4 linked regions of the Homo sapiens genome follow. The protein of the gene in region 3 purifies or fractionates together with the protein of the main gene of each other region. This does not show direct contact. Each region holds a gene or a part of one and is shown on either strand. Other genes may lie near its edges. The genes, in order: LETMD1, SREBF2, SLC39A12 and ABHD12.

Region 1 (7,032 bases), on a different chromosome or scaffold from region 3:
GGAGAATTGCTTGAACTCAGGAGGTGGACGTTGCAGTGAGCCGAGATTGCGCCACTGCACTCCAGCCTGGGCGACAGAGCAAAACTCCATCTCAAAAACAAAAATAAGTGTTCCAGGCCGGGCGCAGTGACTCATGCCTGTAATCCCAGCACTTTGGGAGGCCGAGGCAGGTGGATTGCTTGAGGTCAGGAGTTAAAGACGAGCCTGTCCACATGGTGAAACCCCATCTCTACTAAAAATGCAAAAATTAGCCAGGCATGGTGGCACACGCCTGTAATCCTAGCTACTTGGGATTCTGAGGTGGGAGAATTATATAAACCTGGGAGGTGGAGGTTGCAGTCAGCCGAAATCGCACCACTGCACTCCAGCCTGGGCAACAAAGTGAGATTCCATCTCAAAAAAAAGAAAAAAAAAGTTCCAGAAAGGAGATTAAATTAATATCTGGCTGGGGAATACATAGGGTTAATTTAGCAAGACTTTCTGAAGTTAGGGAGCTTGATTTTTAAAAAGGAGTGACCAGTGAAACAGAAGAGGGAGACCATTCCATAGCAGATTACAGAAGCCAAATGTAGCTAGAAGAGAGGCGATGTGCTAGGGGAAAAAATGTTGAGAAAAGAGATTCGAGTTGACCTCAGGAGTTTCAAGTTACCTAGTTTAAAGCTTTGAGTATCGTTGGGGAGGGGTGAGAGTGTTTGCATGTGATTGAACATGGAGTAGGAAGCTGTGGTTAAGATTTAAACTGGGATAACATCACACTCTGTCCTCTACTTTAATGAGGCAGGATTGCAGATGTTATGGGCTGATGCCAAAAAGGCTAGAAGAATAAAGACAAATATGTGGAAGCACAATATAAAGTTTCATCAACTTCCATACCGGGAGATGGAGCATTTGAGACAGGTATGGGCCAGGGGCAGATATCCAGAAGTTCATGGTGAGGTAATTACATTTAATCAAGATCTCAAGGTTTTTTCTTTCATTTGTTGTTCACCATTGATCAAGCTTTTGCCCTTTGCCGTGAGAACAAAATATTGAACTGAATGAGGCATCAGATTATTTGTAAGAATTGGGTTCATCCAGAGTTGTAGCCCTCCATAGCAAGAGCTCCATAGAATTTCTGGCACACTTTCTGAATGAAAGTTGTAAATACTAAAATCTAATTAGTTTCTGAACATAACAAAAGTCTGCAAGGGGGCTGGGCGCGGTGGCTCACGCCTGTAATCCCAGCACTTTGGGAAGCCGAGGCAGGCAGATCACGAAGTCAGGAATTCGAGACCAGCCTGGCCCACAAGGTCAAACCCCATCTCTACTGAAAATACAAAAATTAGCTGAGTGTGGTGGCGGGCGCCTGTAATCCCAGCTACTCGGGAGGCTGAGGCAGGAGAATCGTTTGAACCCGGGAGGCAGAGGTTGCAGTGAGCCAAAATCATGCCATTGCACTCCAGCCTGGGTGACAGGGCAAGACTCCATCTCAAAAAAAAATAATAATAAAATGAAAATAGAAGTCTGCAAGGGCAGCCAGGCACAGTGGCTCTCGCCTATAATCTCAGCATTTTGGGAGACTGAGGTGGGCGGATCACCTGAGGTCAGGAGCTTGAGACCAGCCTGGCCAACATGGTGAAACCCCATCTCTACTAAAAATTCAAAAATTAGCTGGGCATGATGGCAGGCGCCTGTAGTCCTAGTCCCAGCTACTCGGGAGGCTGAGGCAGGAGAATTGCTTGAACCTGGGAGGCGGAGGTTGCAGTGAGTGAAGATCGCGCCACTGCACTCCAGCCTGGGTGATAAGAGCAAAACTCTGTCTCAAAAAAAAAAAAGTCTGCAAGGATCCAAAGGGCAGCATGAAAGTAGTATTTGGTGGTGACTTGATGGGTCGTTTTGAAGCTGAGAGTAAGAATCTAGGACCCATTCCGCAGATCAGGAAGAGTTCACTGAAGGATTTGGTATAATGTCAGGCTCTGTACTAGACATTATTTGGGATACAAAAGTAAATAAGTCAGAGGTTTTGTCCTCAAGGAACTAACCATCCAGAAGTAAATAGAAATAAACTTGGGGACCACATGCAGTGCTCATGCCTGTAATCCTAGCACTTTGGGAAGCCAAGGCGGGCAGATCACTGGAGGTCAGGAGATTGATACCAGCTTGTCCAACATGGTGAAACCCTGTCTCGACTAAAAATACAAAAGTTAGCCTAGAGTGGCGGCTTATGCCAATAATCCCAGCTACTCGGGTGGCTGAGGCAGGAGGATCACTTGAACCCAGGAGGCAGAGGTTGCAGTGAGCTAGGATTGCACCACTGCACTCCAGCCTAGGTGACAGAGCAAGACTCCATCTCAAAAAGAAAAAGAAAGAAATTTGGTCCTTTTTCTGGGCTGTAATAGAAGTTTACTGTACAGTGGGGTGGATGGATTGTCTATTGTATTAACAACTTATTTGGGTTAAAACTGCATCTGTGTTTATTTCTGCTTAGTTCCGCCAAGACGTCACCAAGTGTCTTTTCCTAGGTATTATTTCCATTCCACCTTTTGCCAACTACCTGGTCTTCTTGCTAATGTGAGTACAGACTTCCATCTCCCCAACATCTTGAAGATGTATCAATTTTTTTAAATTAAGAATTACTTTAAACAGCACTCATTTCAGAAGATAGGCAGAGGTTATCAAACTTCTGCTCCAATCTTCTCATTATTCCAAGGTTCATAAAAACCACTTAGGAAGACCTTGGTTACTGTGACACATCACAGCTATAAGTGTAGGTGGCCTAGACTCTCCCTATCTCTTAGCTGCCCTGAGTCATGTGAAATAAGATAGTGACCTTCTCCATCATCCCTAGAGGCTCTCTCCCCGAGAGAGAGTACTTTTAGACTAATTTCTTTAGGAAAAGTACATTTCGTATTCTGATAACATTTTTATTACTTCATATCCAAAAATGACATTTCTTAACTGTGATCTTGCATGTCATTCATTATCTATTGCTGTATAACAAATAACTTCAAAGCTTAATAGCATAAAACAATCGTATAAATCATTTTCATGATTTTGTAGCTCAAGAATTAGGGCAGTGCTCAGGTGGGCAGTTGATTTCTCTCTTCCATATAGGGTTGACAGAGGTCCCTTAGTGATATTTAGCTGCTGAATGGACTAGTCTGGAAAGTCCAATATCACTCTTATGTCTGGTGCCCTGGCAGGGATGGCTACACGGCTAGAACTGTCAACCAGAGTGCCCAGATGTGGCTTCTTCAGTATGGCAGCCTCAAGATAGTGGGACTTCTAACTTGGGAGCTCAGGGCTCCAAGAGTGAGGGGTTCTAGTAAGAATCTACATGACTTTATAACCTTGTCTTGAAGGTCACATAGAGTCACTGCTGCTCTGTCCTATTGATTGAATCAGTCACCTAGAATGAAAAAAGGGCAGGATGTAGACCTCAGCTCTCCATGAGACAAGTGCCAGAGAATTTGAGGTCATGTTTTAAAACCACCAAACACGTAGATAAATAAATTAAAAAACAAATCGTGGCCAGGTGCAGTGGCTCACGCCTGTAATCCCAGCACTTTGGGAGGCCGAGGCGGGCAGATCACAAGGTCAGGAGATTGAGACCATCCTGGCTAACACAGTGAAACCCTGTCTCTACTAAAAATACAAAATACTAGCTAGGCGTGGTGGCGGGTGCCTGTAATCCCAGCTACTTGGGAGGCTGAGGCAGTAGAATCGCATGAACCCAGGAGGCAGAGGTTGCAGTGAGCCGAGATCGCGCCACTGCAGTCCAGCTTGGGTGACAGAGCGAGACTCTGTCTCAAAAAAAAAACAACAAATCAGTTGCCTTTTACATACTGGGTCCACATAAGGACTGTGCTATAGTTAGATTGTCAACATCACATATAGTGTCCTGGTCAGGCTGCAACTCTCTCCAAAGCATGCTCTTCACATGCTTTAGTTCAAAATGAGTCATTATATCTGATTGCTGCGTGGCAGGCTATTCTGCTAGTCCTTCCTTTCACATCCCATTTCAGTAATGGTGCTTGAAATTGTGCTTCAGTGTGTCTTATAAACTTTGGTCTGAGAGTCACTTAAGAGAAAGGGCTGACTGTAGTGGCTCTCACCAGTAATCCCAGCACTTGGGGAGACTGAAGCAGGAAGATTGCTTGAGACCAGGAGTTTGAGACCACCCTGGGCAATATAGCAAGACCCGTCTCTGCAAAAAAATTAAAAACTTAGCCAGGCATAGTGGCCTGTGCCTGTAGTCCCAGCTACTCAGTAGGCTGTGGTGGGAGGATTGCTTGAGCCTAGGAGGTCGAGGCTGCAGTGAGCTGTGATCTTGCCACTGTACTCCAGCCTGGGTGAGAGAGGGGACCCTGTCTCTTAAAAAAAAAAAAAAAAAAAAAAAAACTGAAAAAGAAAAAGAACACTGAGGTAGGGAAATAGTGTCTCCATCTCTTCTTCCTAGTATTCATGTCTACCAAATGCTTTCTTTGGCTTCCTCTGAAAGAAGCCAGTTTCAGCAAGTGAGTTTGTGATTCTTTCTCCTTTCAGGTACCTGTTTCCCAGGCAACTACTGATCAGGCATTTCTGGACCCCAAAACAACAAACTGATTTCTTAGATATCTATCATGCTTTCCGGAAGCAGTCCCACCCAGAAATTATTAGTTATTTAGAAAAGGTCATCCCTCTCATTTCTGATGCAGGACTCCGGTGGCGTCTGACAGATCTGTGCACCAAGGTATTCCTGCAGTTAACCCTTCCTACAAATGTGGAATCTTGTTAGATTCAGTGTGCACTAAACTAGGTAAGAGGAGTAGTCAGGACTTTCCTAACATCTACAAATCTCTTACCTCTTCCAAGATACAGCGTGGTACCCACCCAGCAATACATGATATCTTGGCTCTGAGAGAGTGTTTCTCTAACCATCCTCTGGGCATGAACCAACTCCAGGCTTTGCACGTGGTGAGCACTTTGAGGGCTTCTCTTTTCCATAGCATCACCATGTTTCAGGTGTTTGCTTGAGCTCATACTATTTGCCTTTCCCCTCCTATGTGGTTGTGTTACAGAAAGCCTTGAGCCGGGCCATGCTTCTCACATCTTACCTGCCTCCTCCCTTGTTGAGACATCGTTTGAAGACTCATACAACTGTGATTCACCAACTGGACAAGGCTTTGGCAAAGCTGGGGATTGGCCAGCTGACTGCTCAGGAAGTAAAATCGGTAAGAGCTTGATTGCAACATCAACCCTCAACCCTTGGTGTGCTTTTGAGCCTATGGCAGGCCGGAGGTTTACAGGGGCTCCTTGTCTTGTTTGTTTATAGAACCCAGCTTCTTTATTCTCTCACTTCATTTATTTATTTATGATTTATTTTTATTTATTTATTTATTTTGAGACAGAGTCTCATTCTGTTGCCCAGGCTAGAGTACAGTGGCACAGTCTTGGCTCACTGCAACCTCTGCCTCCCGGTTCAAGTGATCCTCCTACCTCAGCCTCCCAAGTAGCTGGATTACAGGTGTGCACCACCACGCCCAGCTAATTTTTTGTATTTTTAGTAGAGATGGTTTCACCATGTTTGCCAGGCTGATCTCAAACCCCTGGCCTCAAGAGATCCATCAACCCAAAGTGCCGAGACTACAGGTGTGAGCTACCGCACCCAGCATATTTATTTATTTTTCAGTCTCACTATTTTAACCAAGCTGGTCTTGAACTCCTGGCCTCAAGCAATCCTCCCATCTTGGCCTCCTAAAGTGCTGGGAATACAGCCGTGAACCACTGTGCCCGGCCTTTTTAAAAATTATTTTTTAATTAGCCAGGAGTGGTGGCACATGCCTGTAATCCCAGGTACTTGGGAGGCTGAGACATGAGAATTGCTTGAACCCAGGAGGTGGATTGCAGTGAGCCAAGATCGCACCACTGCACTCCAGCCTGGGTGATAGAGTGAGACTCTGTCTCAAAAAAAACCCAAAAAATAAAATAAAATTATTTTTTATTTTTGTAGAGACAGGGTCTCACTATGTTGCCCAGGCTGGTCTTGAACTCCTGGGCTCAAGTGATCCTCCCGCCTTGGCCTTTCAAAGTGTTGGGATTACAGGCATGAGCCACTGCGCCCAGCTCCTCACCTCATTTCTGTGTCTTTTTTCTCAAGAAACTTAGCTAGGGGGAAGGAATTGCCCACAGAAATTTTGGTTTGTATTTCTTTTCTTCTGGCACTTCAGAAAGCAAGGATACTGCAGTTTAGACCTACTATTTTAGCTTATATAGGACTCTTTGCTTTTGTCATCTTGTCCATCACTAGTTTTCAAATTGCCATGAGGAAAGGCTTCATGTGGGAATGAGATTGTAACTTTTTTTTTTTTTTTTGAGACAGAGTCTCGCTCTGTTGCCCAGGCTGGAGTGCAGTGGCATGATCTTGGCTCACTGCAACCTCCGCCTCCCAGGTTCCAGTGATTCTCCTGCCTCAGCCTCCCGAGTAGCTGGGACTGCAGGTGCATGCCACCACGCCTGGCTAATTTTTGTATTTTTTAGTAGAGATGGTGTTTCACCATATTGGCCAGGCTGGTCTCCAACTCCTGACCTCGTGATCCGCCTACCTCGGCCTCCCAAAGTGCTGGGATTACAGGCACGAGCCACCGTGCCCGGTGAGATTGTAACTTATTTAAAGGAGATTTAGGATTGTTTGTGGATTTCCATTTCCTTGGCATAATCATTCTATGATTATTAAGGACCATTTCTGTTCTGAGTGGTATAGGCTTGTTATCTCCGTGGCCTGAATTCTACGCATATTGGTGAAGATAGGTGTCGAACTTGGCTGGGAGAATGGCTGCAGATTTCCTGCAGCCTGAAAGGTAAAACACATTTCTGTGGTTATACCACTAAAATCCAAGTCACTTTTGTATTTTATTCTGAGGTCATTTTGGAGTTAATTATTGAGTACTGTGAGACATATATATACATACATCTAATTGAAAGGGCACAAACTCACATGCCTACTGCATGCCCGGCAGGTAACGAAGTAGGCCATAAGACAAGAGGGAGTAGTGGGGACTGTGGAAACCTAAG
Region 2 (7,032 bases), on a different chromosome or scaffold from region 3:
CAGTGTGGCCCCCAGCATCTTCAGAAGCTTTGTGGTGGAGGCAGGCACTGGTGGTTCACAATCAGTGCAGAGAGGCCACTGTTGCCCCCAAAACTCATGTGCACTGGAGCATCTTGCCCCTGTGTGCTAGCATTTTATCCACTTTCCTTCCAGCCACCTCCACCCCCACCATCAACCCTGGCAACTTTGTCCTGTAACTAAAATAGCCTTTAGCACATGGCATAACCGGAGAGCTTTTGACATTCCTCTTTGGAGATTCATGTCTGCGTCTTGGGGGCATTCGGCACTAGTGATGGGCAGCCCTGCCTGCTGACTCCCCGGCTGTTTCTAATTGGATCTGAGTATTCTAAGAGAAACTGTAAAATGCTCCAAGACAGAAAGGCCCCACGAGGTCCTATCCTTAGAGCCAAGGCTGTAGCATTTCCTATCAAGCAGACCCTTAACCGGCGCACAGGAAGGAGCTGAGAAGAGTGAGTATACACAGGCTTGAAGTCCTTTGTTCCCTGAAGTAGATGTGACACCCTAATTTCATTGAAGTAGCCCCATTTGTAAGCACTCTGACTAGGTAAGCACCCAGCCCGGTATAGCATTCCACCTGTATGTGTGTCTCCCCCAGTCGATGTGCCTGAGGACACTGAGACTCAGCAGGTAAGTTGTCCAAAGTCACCTCGCTCCAGAGCAGCAGAGCTTCCATGGACAGCCAAGACACCCCTGCAGGCACTGCTGCCTGCTGGATTCACTTACCCCTGGGTCCCTCTGCTTTTCAGGGACTAGGATGCTATGAGAACCCTCCCCCATCCCTAGCCTCCCCTTCCACTCCCAGTCTCCTCTACAGAAAGAAGCTAACTAAGTATCTCCAGAGAGTTTAATACCACATCTCTGGGGGGGTGGTCCCTTAAAGAACGGGTACAACACCTTATTGTGGCCACTTTATAGGTAAGGAAACTGAGGCACACGTTGGAATGACTATCTTGGGTGGCTTCTTAGCAGCAGACGTGATGGTGAAGCCTGTGTCTCTGACTTCCAGCATTGAATGAAGGTGCTAAAGGGTGGGGCGCTAACCCTAGCTCAGGGCTGGCATTTCAGATCTGGAGCTGGTGGCATGGTGCCATAGTGGCAGCATTGGAGTCAACAGATGCACATGTCATATCAGTGTGGGGCGTGGCAGTCACTGGCTTGGGCCCCTCTGCCTGTCACGCAGGTGACACATAGTGACCTGCCTCTCGACTCCCTGTCACTGCTGCAGGAGCCCCCTGGTGAAGGCCATCTTCCATGCCTGCAGAGCCATGCATGCCTCACTCCCTGGGAAAGCAGATGGGCAGCAGAGTTCCTTCTGCCATTGCGAGAGGGCCAGTGGCCACCTATGGAGCAGCCTCAACGTCAGTGGGGCCACCTCTGACCCTGCCCTCAACCACGTGAGTGGGAGCTGAGTTGGCCCCTGGGGGAGGTGCTCTGCACTGGTTTACGAGAACACTCCCACTCACCTCATGCTGACCCTGCGGGTGGGGCCATCCGAAAGACAGAGAAACCAGGACAGCAGCCCCCTTTCAAAAAAGTTACGGCTTATTGGCCTAGGTGGACTCCTTTTTCATCCCTTTTCAGCCTCTGAGGCAAGTGTGTTTCTACCTGCACCTTTCTTAGGCTCCCAGAGTCCCAGGTCCTGCTGGCCCATAGCCTCTGTAAGCCCAGGTGCACCCCAGCTGGCCAGGGGTTCACCTGCATTTGCTCCAGCGGTTTGCGTGACTTCCCAGGCCTCTGCAGGCAGCCTTGGAGTGGGTTCCTGCCCCCTCGGGCACACAAACAGAGCTGAAGACCACCCTGGGCACCTCCTTGGCTGGCCGCATACCTCCTGGCGGGCAGCTGTGGTGCATTGTAGTTGCATTGCATGTTCTGGTGGTACCCATGCAATGTTTCCACAGTGCATCACAGAGGCCTGCCTGGCCCTCGAGAGACTGCCCTGACTGAAGGCCCTATCAGGTGGGGGAGGGGATCCTGATAGAGGGCACTGCTGCCACTGTTGGGGCCCAAGTCACAGCCATCCCAGGAAACAGGAGGGCACCCAGCTGAAAGTGGAGCATCACCTGGTCTACGGGGAACATGTCCTTAGCTCCAGAGTGGGAGGGACCGGGAGAGTCCTGGAGATTCAGATTCTCAGCCACTCCCTGGGGCTTGGTCTTAGCTGGCTAGGCTAGTACTTCAAGCTAGATATTGTCAGTGGACCTGGGCACTGGGATGAACCCAGGACAGCGTGGCAGCCCCTACAGGGACAGGCAATGTGCAGAAAAGGCCCAAACTGGCTGGACGCGGTGGCTCACACCTGTAATCCCAGCACTTTGGGAAGCTGAGGTGGGCAGATCACCTGAGGTCAGGAGTTCGAGACCAGCCTGACCAACATGGTGAAACCCCGTTTGTACTAAAAATACAAAAATAAGCCAGGTGTGGTGGCATGTATCTGTAATCCCAGCTACTCAGGAGGCTGAGGCAGAAGAATCACTTGAACCCAGGAGGTAGAGGTTGCAGTGAGTCGAGATTGCACCACTGCACTCCAGCCTGGGCAACAGAGCGAGACTCCATCTTTAAAAAAAAGCTGGTGGGGGTGCCCAAATGCCCTGGGCTGCCAAGACCAAAGGCAGATGGTGAGCCACATTTCACCTTCTCTTTTGGGCTTTCCATTAGTCTCTTCCGTATTTGTCTTCATGAGAGAACCAAACAGTACAGGCTCAGTTTGGGGAATGAGAGGCTTGCAGCCACCCTTTGGACTGGGGTTCCTTGGTAGCAGCTCTGTGGTAGGAAAGTGAGCCTAGAAGACAACGCCATGCAGCCTGATGGCCCTCGGAGGGCAGAATCCAGACATAGGCCTGCTGCCTCCATGCCCACAGGTGCTTCTGCAGCATGCACAGCTTAGAAGTGCCAGGTTTTGAGGAGAGGGATCCTTTTCCACATCCCCTTGAAGCACACAACAGCCAGAAAACAGTGTAGGCAAGGATCAAGGCCTTGTGCAGGGACAGGGCAGGGTCTTCCTCAGGCCCAGTGTCCTGGGAAGGAGGAAAGCCAGGGCTGGGTGAGATGAGGCTCAGCCTGAGGGAGTTCATCAGGACCGGAGGGCTGCTTGCGGCCCATCTCAACAAGGACTCCTCACTGCTCGGTGTCGTGCAGGTGTGCCACTGCGAGCCGGGTGGGCAGCCCAGCCCCATAGGTCGTAGGCAGAGAGTATGCATGGCCCACATGCAGTACCTTCTCATATGATACAACAGCCCTGTGATGGTGCCATTTACATTTTTTTGAATGAAGAAACTGAGGCTCAGAGAGACTAAGTCCTATGCCAGGGTCATGTAGCTAGTAAGTGGCAAAGCCGGGTCAGTAGGCCTAGTCCCCAAGCACTAAGGCACTCTGTGGTTCTGTCTTCTGAGACACCTGTCTCCCTCTCCCACTCCTCCTCCTCCTTCCCCCAGCCCCATCGACAGGCTCTGCTGCCACTTCAGGCTTTTCCTTGGTACCTTGTGGGTATCTCAGCCTCCTAGCCAGCCATGGTGGGACTCCCATGGGGTGGAAGAACCTGCGCCTTCAACCCACAAGGGTTTTATTTCTGCCCCTGCCACCTGCCTGTGCTGTATTCCCTATACAAGCTGCTGTCCCTGTCAGAGCCTTGCTTTCTCACCTGCAGAATGGGGAGGGCTTGTCTCCCACCTCCTGGGGCCATGGAAGGAACTGGTTCTCCCCTGAGCTGTTCCCTCACGTCCTGCGGAGTTCACCAGACTCTGGGGCTCTCCACTTCCTCCCAGAGCTGCTGAGTGTTGGTCTGGGGAGAGGCCTGGTAGGTGCTAGGATCCTTGCCTCAGGGATGGGCCAGTCACCTGTCTCCCCTCTCTCGTGGCTGACCCCACAGGTGGTCCAGCTGCTCACCTGTGACCTGCTACTGTCGCTACGGACAGCGCTCTGGCAAAAACAGGCCAGTGCCAGCCAGGCTGTGGGGGAGACCTACCACGCGTCAGGCGCTGAACTGGCGGGCTTCCAACGGGACCTGGGCAGCCTGCGCAGGCTGGCACACAGCTTCCGCCCAGCATACCGCAAGGTGAGGCCCAGCTGGCTGGTGGGGCAGGGCAGATTGGAGCCTGTGGGGCCTGAGCCCAGAACCCAGCATGGGCACCAGCATGTGGTTGTGGAGTTGGCCCTCTGAGGTCAGCCTGGTGACCTGTCGAGCACCTGCTTGGCTCGTGCCCAACACTGGGCTAGGCGCCATGTGTCCCTGTGTTCAGCACACATTGGTTGAGTGCCTGCTGTATGCCTGGCCCTGGAGCTCAGCAGGGAGCAGGCCACACTTTGCTGCCACAGACAGGGGCCAGCAGGGAGCTGTGCCTCCCCAGGCACATGCTGGGTGGGAGGGCTCTGAGGGCAATGGTGGCAAGTCAGGGCTCCTGGCCTGGTCCCGAGCTCCACGTTGACTTTCATTCTTTTTCACAGTAGCTAGAGGCTTCGGTTCTGCTGCTGGGTAACATCCCCTTGGCAGTGGCCACGTGATCTGAACTAAGTCACGGAGGAAAGTTCTATGACTGGGCTTGCCAGGCTCCAGCTATTTCCTTTTTTGTTTATTTGTATTGCTATATAATGTATTCAACATATTTGTACCTGTATTTTTTTCTAAAAATTTGAGTGAGATGACTCAAGTGTCATTGAGGGGGCACGGGCTGGGCTGGAAGAAGGCCTCAGAGCGAGGCTGCTGCCGTGGAGCTTGGGATTCAGCCCCCACACCCATCACCCTGAGGTGCTGCGGGGCCCACCCAGGGTTGCACTGTGGCCACTGTGTGCAGCAAGCCAAGACAGACACAACAGACAGTATCATCGGAGAGCCATTCCTTACTGTGGAGAAGAGGGCATGTACCCCAGGCCTGGAGCGGCACCCCTGCCTCCTGGAGCCCACTCTGGTCAGCTCTCTGGTCTGCTCACAGCATGGCTGGCATCAGTGGCCTTTTTTTCATAATAGATGGGGTCTTGCTATGTGGCCCAGGCTGGTCTCAAACCCCTAGCCTCAAGCTGTCCTCCTGCCTCGGCCTCCCAAAGTGCTGGGATTACAGGTGTGAGCCACCTCGCCTGGTCCAAAGGCCTCCTCTTAAATACCATTTCCATTCTGCTGCTCCCTGCTGAGAGCCCATCAGCGGCTCCCCATTGCCTACCAGGACCAGAATCCACTTGGCAGCACTGAAGACCCTCCCTGAAGACTGAGATATAAAGGCATCAAAAAGAGCTTGAGATTTTAAGAAATGACAGACCTCAGCCTTGCCCTTCACCCACCAGTGGCTCATACCTAAGCGCTGCAGACTTTACCCGCACACCTCTAGACTCTCTTCCTTTCTAAAGATACGGAAAGAGGATACCAAACCTCTCTGGTACCAGCCCAACTGTCCCTCCTCACCCCTCTGTCCCTGTCACACCTGTCCTTTTGTCAAACTGCAGGCAGCCTCCAGGGCCTTGGGGCTTCACCCAGGGCACTTGTCTACCAGCCCCACGAGGTGCGTCCAGGGCTTTCTTGTCACCAGTTGGGAAAAGCAGGCCTTTTGCCTCTCTCTCCTCTCATCCTGCTCCTGCTGTTCAGCCAGGTTTCCTGCCTGGCTCAGGGTCAGAGTACGGGACAACAGAGGTTGCTTTTCAGGGGTGAGCAAGGCAGGGTGGTGTGGGAAGGGATGTCATGAGGTGGCAGGCGAGATGGCTCAGGGAGAGCTACCCTGGGCATAGATGGGTGGGGACCAGGGGTGTGATGGATGTCACCCCGGCACCTCCCCAGGTGTTCCTGCATGAAGCCACCGTGCGCCTGATGGCAGGAGCCAGCCCCACCCGCACCCACCAGCTGCTGGAACACAGCCTGCGGCGGCGCACCACGCAGAGCACCAAGCACGGTGAGTCCACCCCTCCCCAGCTCACAGGCTGGGCCAGGCCCTGCGCCCTAGGAAGAGAGGAGAAGAGGGGCCAGCCCAGCTCCCACATCTGGCATTGGTGCCCAGCACACCTCTCGCCTCTCTGAGAATGAAAGAAGCCCGAGGCCGCCCTTGGTGGGTTGCAGGGGTTGGGGTGGTCATGGGTCATGCTGTGATCAGGGAAGGAGGGTTGGGGTGGCGTCCCAGCACAGGTGCAGGCATAGAAGCAGAAGCTCGAGCCAGGTCATGTGGGCCCATCTCAGCCCCACCACGGGCTGGCCGTGAGAGGCTGGACAAGTTCACTTCTTTTCCGTGGATTGGGTGGGGCAGCAGACCCCACCTCCCAGGATGGATGTGAGCGTTCAGTGAATGAGTCCAGGTAACGCCAAGGAACTGCACCAACTTCATGGTAGATTCTCGGTTGTGACACACATCTCCTTCCCACAGGAGAGGTGGATGCCTGGCCCGGCCAGCGAGAGCGGGCCACCGCCATCCTGCTGGCCTGCCGCCACCTGCCCCTCTCCTTCCTCTCCTCCCCGGGCCAGCGGGCAGTGCTGCTGGCCGAAGCTGCCCGCACCCTGGAGAAGGTGGGCGACCGGCGCTCCTGCAACGACTGCCAGCAGATGATTGTTAAGCTGGGTGGTGGCACTGCCATTGCCGCCTCCTGACCACCAGGCTCAGCCCACCCCTCCACCTCTCTCTCGATTTCTCTCTCTCCCCCTCAGCATCTTCCCGCTGAGAGTGGTGGGGAAGAGCCTTGTCTTCTTAGCTGTCACCTGCCGAGGCTTCTGGGCCACTCAGGCCAGTGCACCCCTGGGCAGAGCCCCTTAAAGCTGCTGTCACTAGATGCCCATGGTCCAGGGCCTGGTGGGCGTGAGAGGATAGGTGGCAGGGCAGAAACTGGGCAGCCCTGACTTGATAGCAGCAGGGGGAGCTCCCAAGCTGCCAAGCCCCTGCCTCCAGCCTTCCTGAGTTTCTCTCTCCTGAACCCTACTCTCTCCTTTTTGCTTCCTCAGTTTTTATCAGGCTTTCTCTGGGGGACAGCAGTCTCTGAGCACCAGGGAGCAGTTGCCCTCAGGCCTGTGCCCAGCATGCCCTCCCCTTTTTATACGAATGTTTTCTA
Region 3 (4,900 bases):
ATTGATGATTTGAAAAGTCATCTCAAATTCTATCTCTTGAACCAGAACCATTTTTACTACCATGCGTCTATCTTGCCCAAAATATTTTTCTCCATAATAGTCCACTCAAAATAATCGTGATGGTTCAATAAATGACCTATACTTTATAAGTCTTTGCAAACAAAACCTTTCCAGAAAACACTTCTACTGTGTACTTTACCAAAGACTAAGAACAGCCAGGTGGCAGTAGGGACAGAGATGGGATATGCTGTTAATTCAGCCATGTTTTACAAAAGATAATTAATAATCTTGTTTGAAAAATGAGGAGGAGGAGGAGGAGGAGAGGGAACTACACAAGATCTTATTCCATATTTGGAAATTAGAGTAATCAAGGTTTGAGCCTGTAAATGACCACAGATGGTATGATTGTGTCTCACAGATGCAGTTTGAGATGCAGCTTACTGGGACAAAGGAAGGTGGTGGCCTATGTTGTCTGGCTTTGGAGAAAACTATTAAAAAATACTGAAAACTATTGAGAATCAAAGTGATTGGGGCTGAGTATGGTGGCTTATGCCTGTAATTCCAACACTTTGGAAAGCTGAGGCAGGAAGATCAGTTGAGCCCCGGCATTTGTGATCAGCCTAGGCAACATAGCAAGACCTCGTCTCTACTAAGAATTTTAAAATTAGCTGGGTAGGGTAGTATGCACCTGCAGTCTTAGCTACCCAGGAGGCTGAAGTGGGAGGATTGCTTGAGCCCAGGAGTTCACGGCTACAGTGAGCTATGATCACATCACTGCACTCCAGCCTGGGCAACAGTGAGACCCTGAATCAAAAAAAAGAAAAACAAGGTATTGGAAAATTCCCATGTATGTACCTTGTTAATCCCTCAAGAGTACCATCAAATGCAAGCTCTTTGAGAACAAATACTATTTCTTCCCTATACATATAAGCCTTAATCTAGAATTCTGCCATGTCCACTGTGGATTTTGAATTAATATCAAGGCATTTAGAAACCAAAACACTCTGAATGTTGAACTAATATCAAGGCATTTAGTAAATGAAAGATATTCATTCGCCACTTAGGAGGAAACGGGGAAAGTTTGTCATAAATCCATTGTTAACTATATGAGAAACTTGCAACAGTTACATATAGTTCAAACATTAAATATATGTAATTTAAAACATATACGTAATATATAAAACATGAAATCAGATGTTTCAGCTGCTTCTTGCTAAGTCACTTTACTACAAAATTGAAAATATAGACTGTTTTATCCACATTCCATAGATTTTCCAAAATGGCATTTTGAATTTATAATTGATGAATCAGATAAGATTTTTCTAAAGTATAACATGTTTAAACCTGGCATAAAGACACCAAAAGAGCATGTAATTTGTTTAAAATGGTCCACCCAGGAGAGCAGTTCTGGATCCTACTTTGTCTTTGAGTCCATTGCTCCATGCCGGGATGTGAGATGGCAGGTCATAGTAAACCACCCTCATGCCATTGAAATAACTACCTAAGATGAAGAAATATCTCAAACAGAGCATTCAGGGTGCTCCTCTCCATGTACTTAAAAATGTGTCAACCTGGCCAGGCATGGTGGCTCATGCCTGTAATCCCAGCACTTTAGGAGGCCAAGGCAGGTGGATCACCTGAGGTCAGGAGTTCAAGACTAGCCTGGCCAACATGAAGAAACCCTGTCTCTACTAAAAATACAAAATTAGCCAAGCATGGTGGTGGATGCCTATAGTTCCAGCTACTCGGGAGGCTGAGGTAGGAGAATCGCCATAACCCAGGAGGCAGAGGTTGCAGTGAGCCGAGATCATGCCACTGTACTCCAGCCTAGGCGATAAGAGTGAAACTCCATCTCAAAAAAAAAAAAAAAAAGTGTCAAGCCATTTTCTATTGCCATAAACCTAAAGTCCTTGATCATTCATTTGATCGATAAAATAATCTGAGTCGTTCTCTACTGGAGGTGATTTTTATCCCCCAGAGAAAATTTGACTGTGTCTGGAGGCATTTTTGCTTGCCATGATTGTGGGCAGAGACACAGCTGACATCTAGTAGGAGCCATAGATACTGCTACAACATCTTCTAATGGACAGGAGAGGGGTCTCACAATGAAGGATGATCTGGCCCAAAATGGCAAGATTGAGTTAAATCTCCAATCCTTGTTGACACGAGCCTGTGTCCCAATGGAAATGACTGTGTAATGAAAGAGGTATGCTTGCTCTGACCTTCTCAGGGTGAGGGCTTTGAAATAATTTGAGACAAATACACCTTGGGGCACTTCACACAGATGCGTGAGTGAACCCTTCCCTCTAAATGGTGTTAGGCCATTTCACAAACATGAAATAGTTGCCATGTGTTTCTCTGAGAATAAAATATAGCCACAGGACAGCCTGGTCAACACAGTGAAACTCTGTCTTTACCAAAACATACAAAAATTAGCCGAGTGTGGCAGCACATGCCTGTAGTCCTAGCTACTCAGGAGGCTGAGGCAGGAGAATTGCTTGAACCCGGGAGGCAGACATTGCAGTAAGCTGAGATCCCACCACTGCACTCCAGCCTGGGTGACAGAGTGAGACTCTGTCTCAAAAAAAAAAAACTTTATATATATATATATGTATATATATACACACACACACACACACACACGCACACATACACACACACATACATACACACACCATATATATGTGTATATATATGTATATACATATGTATATATGTGTATATATATGTATATACATATGTATATATGTGTATATATATGTATATACATATGTATATATGTGTATATATATGTATATACATATGTATATATGTGTATATATGTATATACATGTATATATGTGTATACATATGTATACATATGTATATACATATGTGTCTATATGTATATACATATGTATACGTATATGTATGTACATACATATGTATACGTATATATATGTACATACATATGTATATGTATATATATACACACATATATGTATATGTATATATGTATACATATATATATGTAGCCACAGGAGATAATGTCCTTACTGTTCTAAAGATCAGGAGGATCTTAGTCATCGCTCTCTCTCTCTCCTTTTCTTCCTCCCTCCTCCCATAATATGTATATATGCCTTACATCAACCTGTGCATATAGTAGTTCTATAAGCCTAATAGAACAGTCCAAAATAATAATTTTGATGCATTATTTACTTCACATTTAAACATTTTCTGAAAAGTAAGAGTTGGGTTTGTTTTTGGTTGGTAACTATGTCATTTTAAGACTTCTACCAAAGGCCAGGTGCAGTGGCTCACGCCTATAAGCCCCAGCACTTTGGGAGGCCGCAACATGCAGGTTGCTTGAGCCCAGGAGCTTGAGACCTGCCTGGGCAATACAGGGAAACCCCATCTCTACAAAAAAATGCAAAAATTAGCTGGGTGCAATGGCACGCACCTGGAAGGCTGAGGTGAGAGGATTGCTGGAGCCCAGGAGGTTGCTGTGAAATGTGATCGCAGCCATTGCACTCCAGCCTGGGTGACAGGGCAAAGACCCTGCCTCAAAAGAAAAAAAAAAAAAAAAAAAAGACTTTGCCAATCCTGGGATCCTCATAACCACAATCAAATGGCTTACTTTTAGCTTACATTTCAAAGACATGGTAGAGTAGGTATTCAGCATTTTGTAACTGTTTTGGGAATTTTAAAGGTTATTAAGTTCTGAATAACAGTCGCTCATGTTTTCCCACCAAGCTTTTCCCAGCAGTTGAATATATCTGGATCTTATTCTGGTTTTTTATTCTTTTTTTAGCTTCCTGAAATGACTCATGTTCAAACACAACGACCCTGGATGATGTTTCTCCTGCAAAACTTTGGATTGATCCTAGGTTGGCTTTCTCTCCTGCTCTTGGCTATATATGAGCAAAATATTAAAATATAAGTGAGGATCTTCAACATCTTTCAAAAATGCATTTATATAGTCTTACTTTGTTTCTTTCATTGCACTCTATAATGATTTTTAAATTAAGAATTTTTTATCTTAGGCAAAGTGTGTCTCTTTCAATTCATTAACTTATTAATTTTATAATGCAGTTTTATTTTTGGAAACATATAAATATCAGACTGTCCTTAATTGAAATTTTGTCTTTGGTTTCCAACACCATGATGAAGCTCTTGCTTTTTAAAAAGTAGTTAGTAAATTCTGCATGAATTTTAGTAAACTTTAAAAAATAGATTTTTTCCCTAAGAAAGAATGTTTGTAGAATTTAAAGTGGACAGATGCCTGTTGGAGTAAAATCAACTGCAACTTTTTGATGTTAATTTTTTTCCCTGTGCAATTATAAACTATAAGCAAGTTAAGTGACAAGCAAATGTAATAAAGACTAGTTTTAATATGGTGGTTTTTATTACCTTCTGTTACTGGATGTCAGATTCTGAGTCATCTCTTAAAAAAACAATGTATAGTTCACCCACTGACTCTAGAGCGCTTGTGAACAAGCCATTTTGGGAGACCTAAAGGATAACATGTCAGCATTCTTCTATGTAAGTCGTCAAATGAAATCTGTTCCAGGCAAGGGGAGCTGGAAACATAAGATGAAGTTCAAAATTTTTAAAGTAACAAAACTGGAGTCAGGCAGTAGATGAATGCCTAAACTCTCACAGATTTAACAGAGAATATTTATGGGAATAATCTCACTAACACGTGAGATATATTTTATCTTCTTTCTGAGGAAACAGAATCCTGAACAGGATTTCAATAGGTAAGTTCATGAAATGTACATGCAATTTACTGATAACCTAGCGAAAGTGTTGAAACAGAAAATAACCCTGGCTTTAGTCAGTTTTCTTAGAAAACAGATGCCTTATATTTTTCTTATTTTTTAAATGCTATTTCTTGACAAGGGAAAAAACCCATTTTACT
Region 4 (7,032 bases), on a different chromosome or scaffold from region 3:
TCACCATGTTGGCCAGGCTGGTCTCGAACTCGTGACCTCGTGATCCACCCACCTCGGCCTCCCAAATTGCTGGGATTACAGGCGTGAGCCACAGCGCCCGGCCTGGAATATTTTTAAACAATTTTTTTTTTAAGAAAGTTCCGTCACCCAGGCTGGAGCACAGTGGCATGATCATGGCCCACTGCAGCCCAGACCTCCTGGGCTCAGGCGATCCTCCCATATCGATGCTGGGTGTATGCCACCACTCCTGGTTAATTTTTTTTTTTTTTTTTTAATAGAGATGAAGTCTCACTATGTTGCCCCCAGGCTGGTCTTGAATTTCTGGCTTCAAGCGATCCTTCTTCCTGGCCTCCCAAAGTGTTAGGTATGAAATACCGTGCCAGGCCTAAATTCTCCTGCCTCAGCCTCCCGAGAAGGTGGGATTACAGGCATGTGCCACCACACATGGCTAATTTTTGTATTTTTTGTAGAGATGGGGTTTCACCATGTTGGCCAGACTGGTCTCCAACTCGTGACTTCAAGTGATCTCCCTGTCACGGCCTCCCAAAGTGTTGGGATTACAGGTGTGAGCCACCATGTCTGACCTCTTTTTCTTTTCTGATTGCATTGTATTTCTAGAACAAAGTTAAATAATAGGGATGACACTGAGTAACTTGTTTCATTCCTGACTTTAATGAGAATGCTGTTAGTGTTTTTGCCATTTAAGTGCCATGCTGGGGTGTGTTGCTAATGTTGTGGGGAGCTTTTTGTTTTTGTTCCTGCTCCCTCACTGATGTTTTTAAAATAAAAAATGGTGATTGAGTTTTCTCAAATGCCAGTGTACATCTGTGGAATGATCATAGAGATTTTCTTCTTTTATCTGTTAACATAATGAGTTATAGTAATGGATTTATATTATTGAATCATCATTGTATTCCTGGGATAAACTCTCTTATTGTATAGCCAGATTCTATTTATTCATTTATTTTTTATTTTTATTTTTTGAGGCGGGGTTTCACTCTGTTGCCCAGGCTGGAGTGCAGTGGCACGATCTCGGGTCACTGCAACTTCTGCCTCCCAGGTTCAAGCAATTCTCTGGCCTCAGCCTCCCGGGTAGCTGGGATTACAGGCACCTGCCACCATGCCCGGCTAATTTTTGTATTTTTAATGGAGACGGGATTTTGCCATGTTGACCAGGCTGGACTCGACCTACTGACCTCAGATAATCTGCCTGCCTCAGCCTCCCAAAATGCTGGGATTATAAGGCGTGAGCCACCGCACCTGGCCTATTTATTAATATTTTATTTTGAAATTTTACATCATGAGGCCGGGCTCGGTGGCTCACGCCTGTAATCCCAGCACTTTGGGAGGCCGAGGCAGGCTGATCACGAGGTCAGGAGATCGAGACCATCCTGGCTGACGGGTGAAACCCCGTCTCTACTAAAAAATACAAAAAAAATTAGCCAGGCGTGGTGGCGGGCGCCTGTAGTCCCAGCTACTCAGGAGGCTGAGGTAGGAGAATGGCATGAATCCGGGAGGTGGAGCTTGCAGCGAGCCCAGATTGCACCACTGCACTCCAGCCTGGGCGACAGAGCAAGACTCCATCTCAAAAAAAAAAAAAGAAAGAAAAAGAAATTTTACATCATTTGTGAGAATAGTCTGTAATTTTCTCTTATGCAACCTTTATCAAGTTGTTTTAGTGTTTTCTATAGCTTTGTAAAAAGTTTCTTACATAACATTTTATTCTAAACTTTTATTTTTATTATTATTATTATTATTTTTTTGAGACGGAGTCTCGCTGCATCACCCAGGCTGGAGTGCAGTGGCGCGATCTTGGCTCACTGCAAGCTTTGCCTCCCGGGTTCACGCCATTCTCCTGCCTCAGCCTCCCAAGTAGCTGGGACTACAGGTGCCCACCAACACACCTGGCTAATTTTTTGTATTTTTTTTAGTAGAGACGGGGTTTCACCGTGTTAGCCAGGATGGTCTCAATCTCCTGACCTCGTGATCCGCCTGCCTTGGACTCCGAAAGTGCTGGGATTACAGGTGTCAGCCACCGCACCCGGCCATTTTATTCTAAACTTTTAGCCAGCTTAAGAATTTTTTAAATTATTTGTTTAAAATTTGGTAGAAATTCTCTTGTAAAACTGTCTAAGCCTGGTGCCTTTCTATTTATTTATTTATTTATTTATTTAAATTTTTTGGTACAGGCAGGTCTTGCCACGTTGCCTAGGCTGGTCTTGAACTTCTCTCTCAAGCAGTCCTTCCACCTCTGTCCCCCAAAGTATTGGGATTATAGGCATGAGCCACCACCCTAGCCAGTGCTGTTTCAGAATATAGCACTTCGGTAACTACTACAGTGTCTTCTACGTCTGTTTAGAATTTGCTATGTCCTGGTTTCAGTTTTGGTGGTTTATGTATTCTTATAAAATTACCAATTTAATTCACCTTTTCTCCTCTGTAGCTATGGCCATTTCCCTAGTTTTCTTCCCTGTTTTTTGTAATTAGGGTTTTTCCTCCGTTTTCCTCTTTTTTTTTTTTTTTTTTTTTTTTGAGTCTCACTCTTGTTGTCCAGGTTGGAGTGCAATGGCATGATCTTGGCTCATTGCAACCTCCGCCTCCCAGTTTCAAGCGATTTTCCTGCCTCCGCCTCCCGAGTAGCTGGGATTACAGGTATGTGCCACCACACCCAGCTAATTTTGTATTTTTAGTAGAGACAGGGTTTCTCCATGTTGGTCAGGCTGGTCTCAAACTCCCAACCTCAGATGTTCCACCCGCCTTGGCCTCCCAAAGTGTTGGGATTACAGGCGTGAGCCACCGCGCCTGGCCTGCTTTTTCCTCCTGATTTAGGCTAGTCAGTAATATATCTAATATCCATACATACACTGAAGTGGGGAAATATATATACACACACACATACACACACACACATGTTTTGTGCTCCATCAAAGAAAATATCTCTTTTTAGTTCTGGGGGATGCTGAGAAGTGGAGAGAACAGGTTCTTTCTGAAGGGGACAGCAGCTACCACACCCTGTCCTGTTGCTGCCTGGCAGGAATGTGGTCCCAGAGTGGCCAGATTGTCCAGTCTTTCTGGAAAAGACTAGCTGGTGTTTTTTTTAGTTTGTTTTGTTTTGTGTTTGAGATCGGGTTTGGCTCTACACCCGGACTGGAGTGCTGCAGTGCAGTCATGGCTCACTGCAGCCTCTGCCTCTCAGGGTCAAATGGTCTTCGCACCTCAGCCTTACAAGTAGCTGGGACTACAGGCACCCACCACCATGCCTAGCTAATTTTTGTATTTTTTGTAGAGACAGAGTTTTGCCATGTTGCCCAGGCTGGACTTGAACTCCTGAGCTCAAGTGATCCACCCGCCTAAGCCTCCCAAAGTGCTGGGATTACAGGCATGAGCCAGTGCACCCGGCCTTTTGTTTGTTTATATAGTTTTTTTTTTGTCTTAGTGTGTGTGCTTGTGTGTGTGTGTGTAGTATTGCCAACTTTTTTAACATTGGTAAGTAACTCAGATGAGAACAATTTTGGAGGTTAAAAAAAAAACCCCAAACCAGTTTTTTTTGTTTTTAAATTCTGGGCCAAAAGATAATTTTTAAAGGTAAATATTTATCTCATTCATAGGTCAACTCTGTACTCCTTGAGACGAGGAACTAGATCAGTTTTGCTTTGCATGGTATCTGGTGTGAGGAGGTACTGGGCAAATGAGTGATTTTTTTTTTTCTTTTTTTTTTTTTTGAGACAGAGTCTCACTCTGTCACCCAGGCTGGAGTGCAGTGGCGTGATCTCGGCTCACTGCAACCTCTGCCTCCCAGATTCAAGCGATTCTCCTGCCTCAGCCTCCTGAGTAGCTGGGACTATGGGCGCCCGCCACCATGCCCGGCTAATTTTTTTTCTTTTTTTTCTTTTTTTTTTTTTTTTTTTTGAGAAAGAGTCTCCCTCTGTTGCCCAGGCTGGAGGGCAGTGGCGTGATCTCGGCTCACTGCAACCTCCGTGTGCCAGGTTCAAGTGATTCTCCCGCCTCAACCTCCCGAGTAGCTGGGATTACAGGTGCACGCCACCATACCTGGCTAATTTTTTGTATTTTTAGTAGGGACGAGGTTTCACCATGTTGGTCAGGCTGATCTTGAACTCCTGACCTCATGATCCGCCCACCTTGGCCTCCCAAAGTACTGGGATTACAGGGGTGAGCCACTGTGCCCGGCCTTAATTTTTATATTTTTAGTAGAGACGGGGTTTCACCATATTGGCCAGGCTGGTCTTGAACTCCTGACCTTGTGATCCGCCTGCCTCGGCTTCCCAAAGTGCTGGGATTACAGGCGTGAGCCACCGCGCCCAGCCCAAATGAGGGATTTTGTGGGCCTTTCATTAGCCCTGGAATTGTTGGGAATGTGCATTGAAGGCATGACTGGTCTAATTTGGACCCTGAGAAGGCAGTCATGAGATGTACACGGTCTGTGTGTTACCTAGTCTTTATCCTCCAACTCCCAACCGACAGGCCAGATCTGCTGGATTGACAGAGATCAGTGGGCTGCATGGGAGGTTTCATAGCCAGATCACCCTCATACGTAAATGCCAAAGAACATAGTCATCACACCTATTTCTTCCTTTACCCAAAGAAGATACTTTATCCAAGGTTGCTAATGGCTTCCCCCTAACCCAGAAGAGTGGGTGGCTGAGGTTAACATCTGTCTTCTTCAGTGTCAGCCTTCCCGAGGTTCAGTATCAACCTCACCCTCTAAGTGTCCCTGTATGGTATCTCTTCATCTTTTCTTTACAGATTAGGAAGATGGGAGCGAGTTCTGAGCTAGCTTTTGTGGTTAAAGTCTGCTTCATCCATCTCCTTTTTCCTTTTGCTCCACCCTCAGTACAGTCTGGGCCAGGACTGTGACAAGGCATGGGGCTGGCTTTGTTTATGGCGCCATAGCTGGCCCCCCCCCTCAACTGGTACTGGTTTTCCTCTTCCTAACTCAGTGTACCTTATCAATGCTGCACTCCAGCCAGGGACTGGCCACACTGGGACTTGGTGCTTTGCCACTGCCTTCTGCTTTATTAGGACTCTGCATCCTGTATCTCTGCTTGGTTCCTAGTTCCTTTCAGCCACAGTGACCCTTCCCAAGGGAGTGTCCGCCTTCTATGGTGACTTTGGCAGACAGGCCTGAACTGTGAGGGGTATCTTTGGGCAGGCTGAAAGCACCTGAGGCACTTTCATGGAGGAAGCCTTGGAGAGAGGCATGGAAGATGGGTCATCTTGTCAGGTTTGTGCTAACAGCGATGGAGACAGGACCTCATTTCAGACTCCCGCTGCTGCAACTTCTCCTCCTCTTCGTTCCCCTCCTTTCTCTCCTCTTCCATTAGAACACTTGTCCTTCCAGAGTGAAATCTGCAGGGAAAATGTTTATTGAAATATAACCTCAAAAGCTGACAGATGAAGTCAATGCTCTTCACCCAGAGATGACGCCACAGGACTTTGGTCTCAGTGTGCTTGTGCTTTGGCAGGGGCCCTTTCAGCATGAGAGTGGGTAAGCCATCTATCTCGTGCCACACCGAGAGCCAGCGTCTAGAGTGTCAGTCAGTGAACAGGGGCCAAGAGCCAGGATGCCGGAACCAAACTGTCCCATTACCAGCAAGACTTCTCATTTAGGCCTCAGCCCCTTTGTATTGTGATTTACTGCTTCAGAGGATAGCCTTCATAGAGACCCAGGTCTCAGGTGAGTTTTCAGATTCTCTGGCTTGGGTGAGTTGTGTAACACTCTGAGTTTGTTTCTTCATCTGTGATGTAGGGATAAGAGTGTCTTCCCTGTAGGATTGTGGTGAGGCCCAGGTGTGTGGAATGTTCCTGGCACATGGTGAGTGCTTGGTCAGTGACATCTTCTAGATGACTAGCCCCATGATGATTATAATATTAAGAGCTCAGGGTACTGGCCAGTGTGGTGGCTCATGCCTGTAATCCCAGCACTTTGGGAGGCCGAGGCAGGCAGATCACTTGAGTTCAGGAGTTCAGGACCAGCCTGGCCAACGTGGTGAAACACCATCTCTACTAAAAAGACAAAAATTAGCCAGGTGAGGTTGTGAGCACCTGTAATCCCAGGTGAGGGATTATCTCCTGTAATCCTGGGAGGCTGAGGCAGGAGAATCGCTTGAACCCAGGAGGTGGAGGCTGCAGTGAGCCGAGATTGCACCACTGCACTCCAGCTTGGGTGACAGAGCGAGACTTTGTCTCAAAAACAAAACAAGGAAAAAAAAAAAAAAAGAGGGTACTGAGAAAGATCTGTTAGCTCATGTCTAGAAGGATTTTCTTCTACCCTTTTCTGCCCCAAACAATTAAGAGTCTGGCTTCTCAGCCAGTCGTGCATATAGGGTCCATCCTGATCAGTTAATGTGTCTGTTGGTATTAGAGCATTTGTAGCAATACTATTTGCTTATTTAACACTTTTTTCCAGCCACTCATTTAACAGTTTGAGTACCTGTTACGCCCAGTAACACCTGTGAATGCTGAGGCCGTTGCAGTTCTCCTGGCCTTTACATTCTGGTAGGGGAGGCAGATAAAACATGAAGAAACACATGATGTCATGTGCTTAGGGCACTAAGGAGGAAAATGGTGCCAGTGAGGGAATAGCCGCAGATGAGGCCCTGTGGCTGTGTGTGCACAGTCTGGGTGTACAGGGGATGTTTCTGACAAGGAGACATGTGAATGGATGCCACTGGCTGCTAGAGAAATGGCATGGTGTGTGTCATCATGTCACTCTGACTGTGTGACAAGCACAGACTGCGGTGGGCAAGCAGGGAGACCGGCTAGGGGCTGCCAGGGTCATCCAGGCAAGAGATGACAGGGGCTCAGGCCGGGACAGCAGCTGTGGAGATAAGAAGAGGCATGTGATTCTGGATTCACAAACTACTTTCTGAGCAACAGGAAGAATGGAGTTGCCAGATACTGAGATGGGGACAGATGTGGAAAGAGCAAGTGCTTTGGGGCAGGAGAAGTAATGTTTGGTTTTGGACATATTGAGGTGCCTGTTAAACATCCAGGTGGATAGGGGATAGAGTT

Evidence for each region.
Region 1: the proteins of SLC39A12 (region 3) and LETMD1 purify together in Homo sapiens (affinity purification with mass spectrometry; 3 studies listed by BioGRID and IntAct, with this or other methods). This does not show direct contact.
Region 2: the proteins of SLC39A12 (region 3) and SREBF2 purify together in Homo sapiens (affinity purification with mass spectrometry; 3 studies listed by BioGRID and IntAct, with this or other methods). This does not show direct contact.
Region 4: the proteins of SLC39A12 (region 3) and ABHD12 purify together in Homo sapiens (co-immunoprecipitation; 4 studies listed by BioGRID and IntAct, with this or other methods). This does not show direct contact.

The regions. Positions count from the first base shown.
Region 1 is NC_000012.12:51,051,311-51,058,342, forward strand, and holds part of LETMD1 (LETM1 domain-containing protein 1), read left to right. Parts: intron 1-777; exon of another isoform or gene 778-781; coding exon 782-897; coding exon of another isoform or gene 898-936; intron 937-2,467; coding exon 2,468-2,550; intron 2,551-4,524; coding exon 4,525-4,711; intron 4,712-4,833; coding exon 4,834-4,935; intron 4,936-5,039; coding exon 5,040-5,192; intron 5,193-6,695; coding exon of another isoform or gene 6,696-6,721; coding exon 6,722-6,818; intron 6,819-7,032. UniProt on the Homo sapiens protein: Plays an essential role for mitochondrial structure and function, as well as thermogenesis of brown adipocytes.
Region 2 is NC_000022.11:41,899,084-41,906,115, forward strand, and holds part of SREBF2 (sterol regulatory element-binding protein 2), read left to right. Parts: intron 1-153; coding exon of another isoform or gene 154-313; exon of another isoform or gene 314-1,039; intron 1,040-1,246; coding exon 1,247-1,415; intron 1,416-1,860; exon of another isoform or gene 1,861-1,929; intron 1,930-3,886; coding exon 3,887-4,072; intron 4,073-5,779; coding exon 5,780-5,891; intron 5,892-6,356; coding exon 6,357-6,577; 3' UTR 6,578-7,032.
Region 3 is NC_000010.11:18,038,915-18,043,814, forward strand, and holds the end of SLC39A12 (zinc transporter ZIP12 isoform 1 precursor), read left to right. Parts: intron 1-3,790; coding exon 3,791-3,919; 3' UTR 3,920-4,371; downstream 4,372-4,900. UniProt on the Homo sapiens protein: Uniporter that promotes Zn(2+) import from the extracellular space to the cytoplasm across the cell membrane. The transport activity is temperature dependent. May play a role in neurulation and neurite extension.
Region 4 is NC_000020.11:25,380,832-25,387,863, reverse strand, and holds part of ABHD12 (lysophosphatidylserine lipase ABHD12), read left to right. Parts: intron 1-7,032.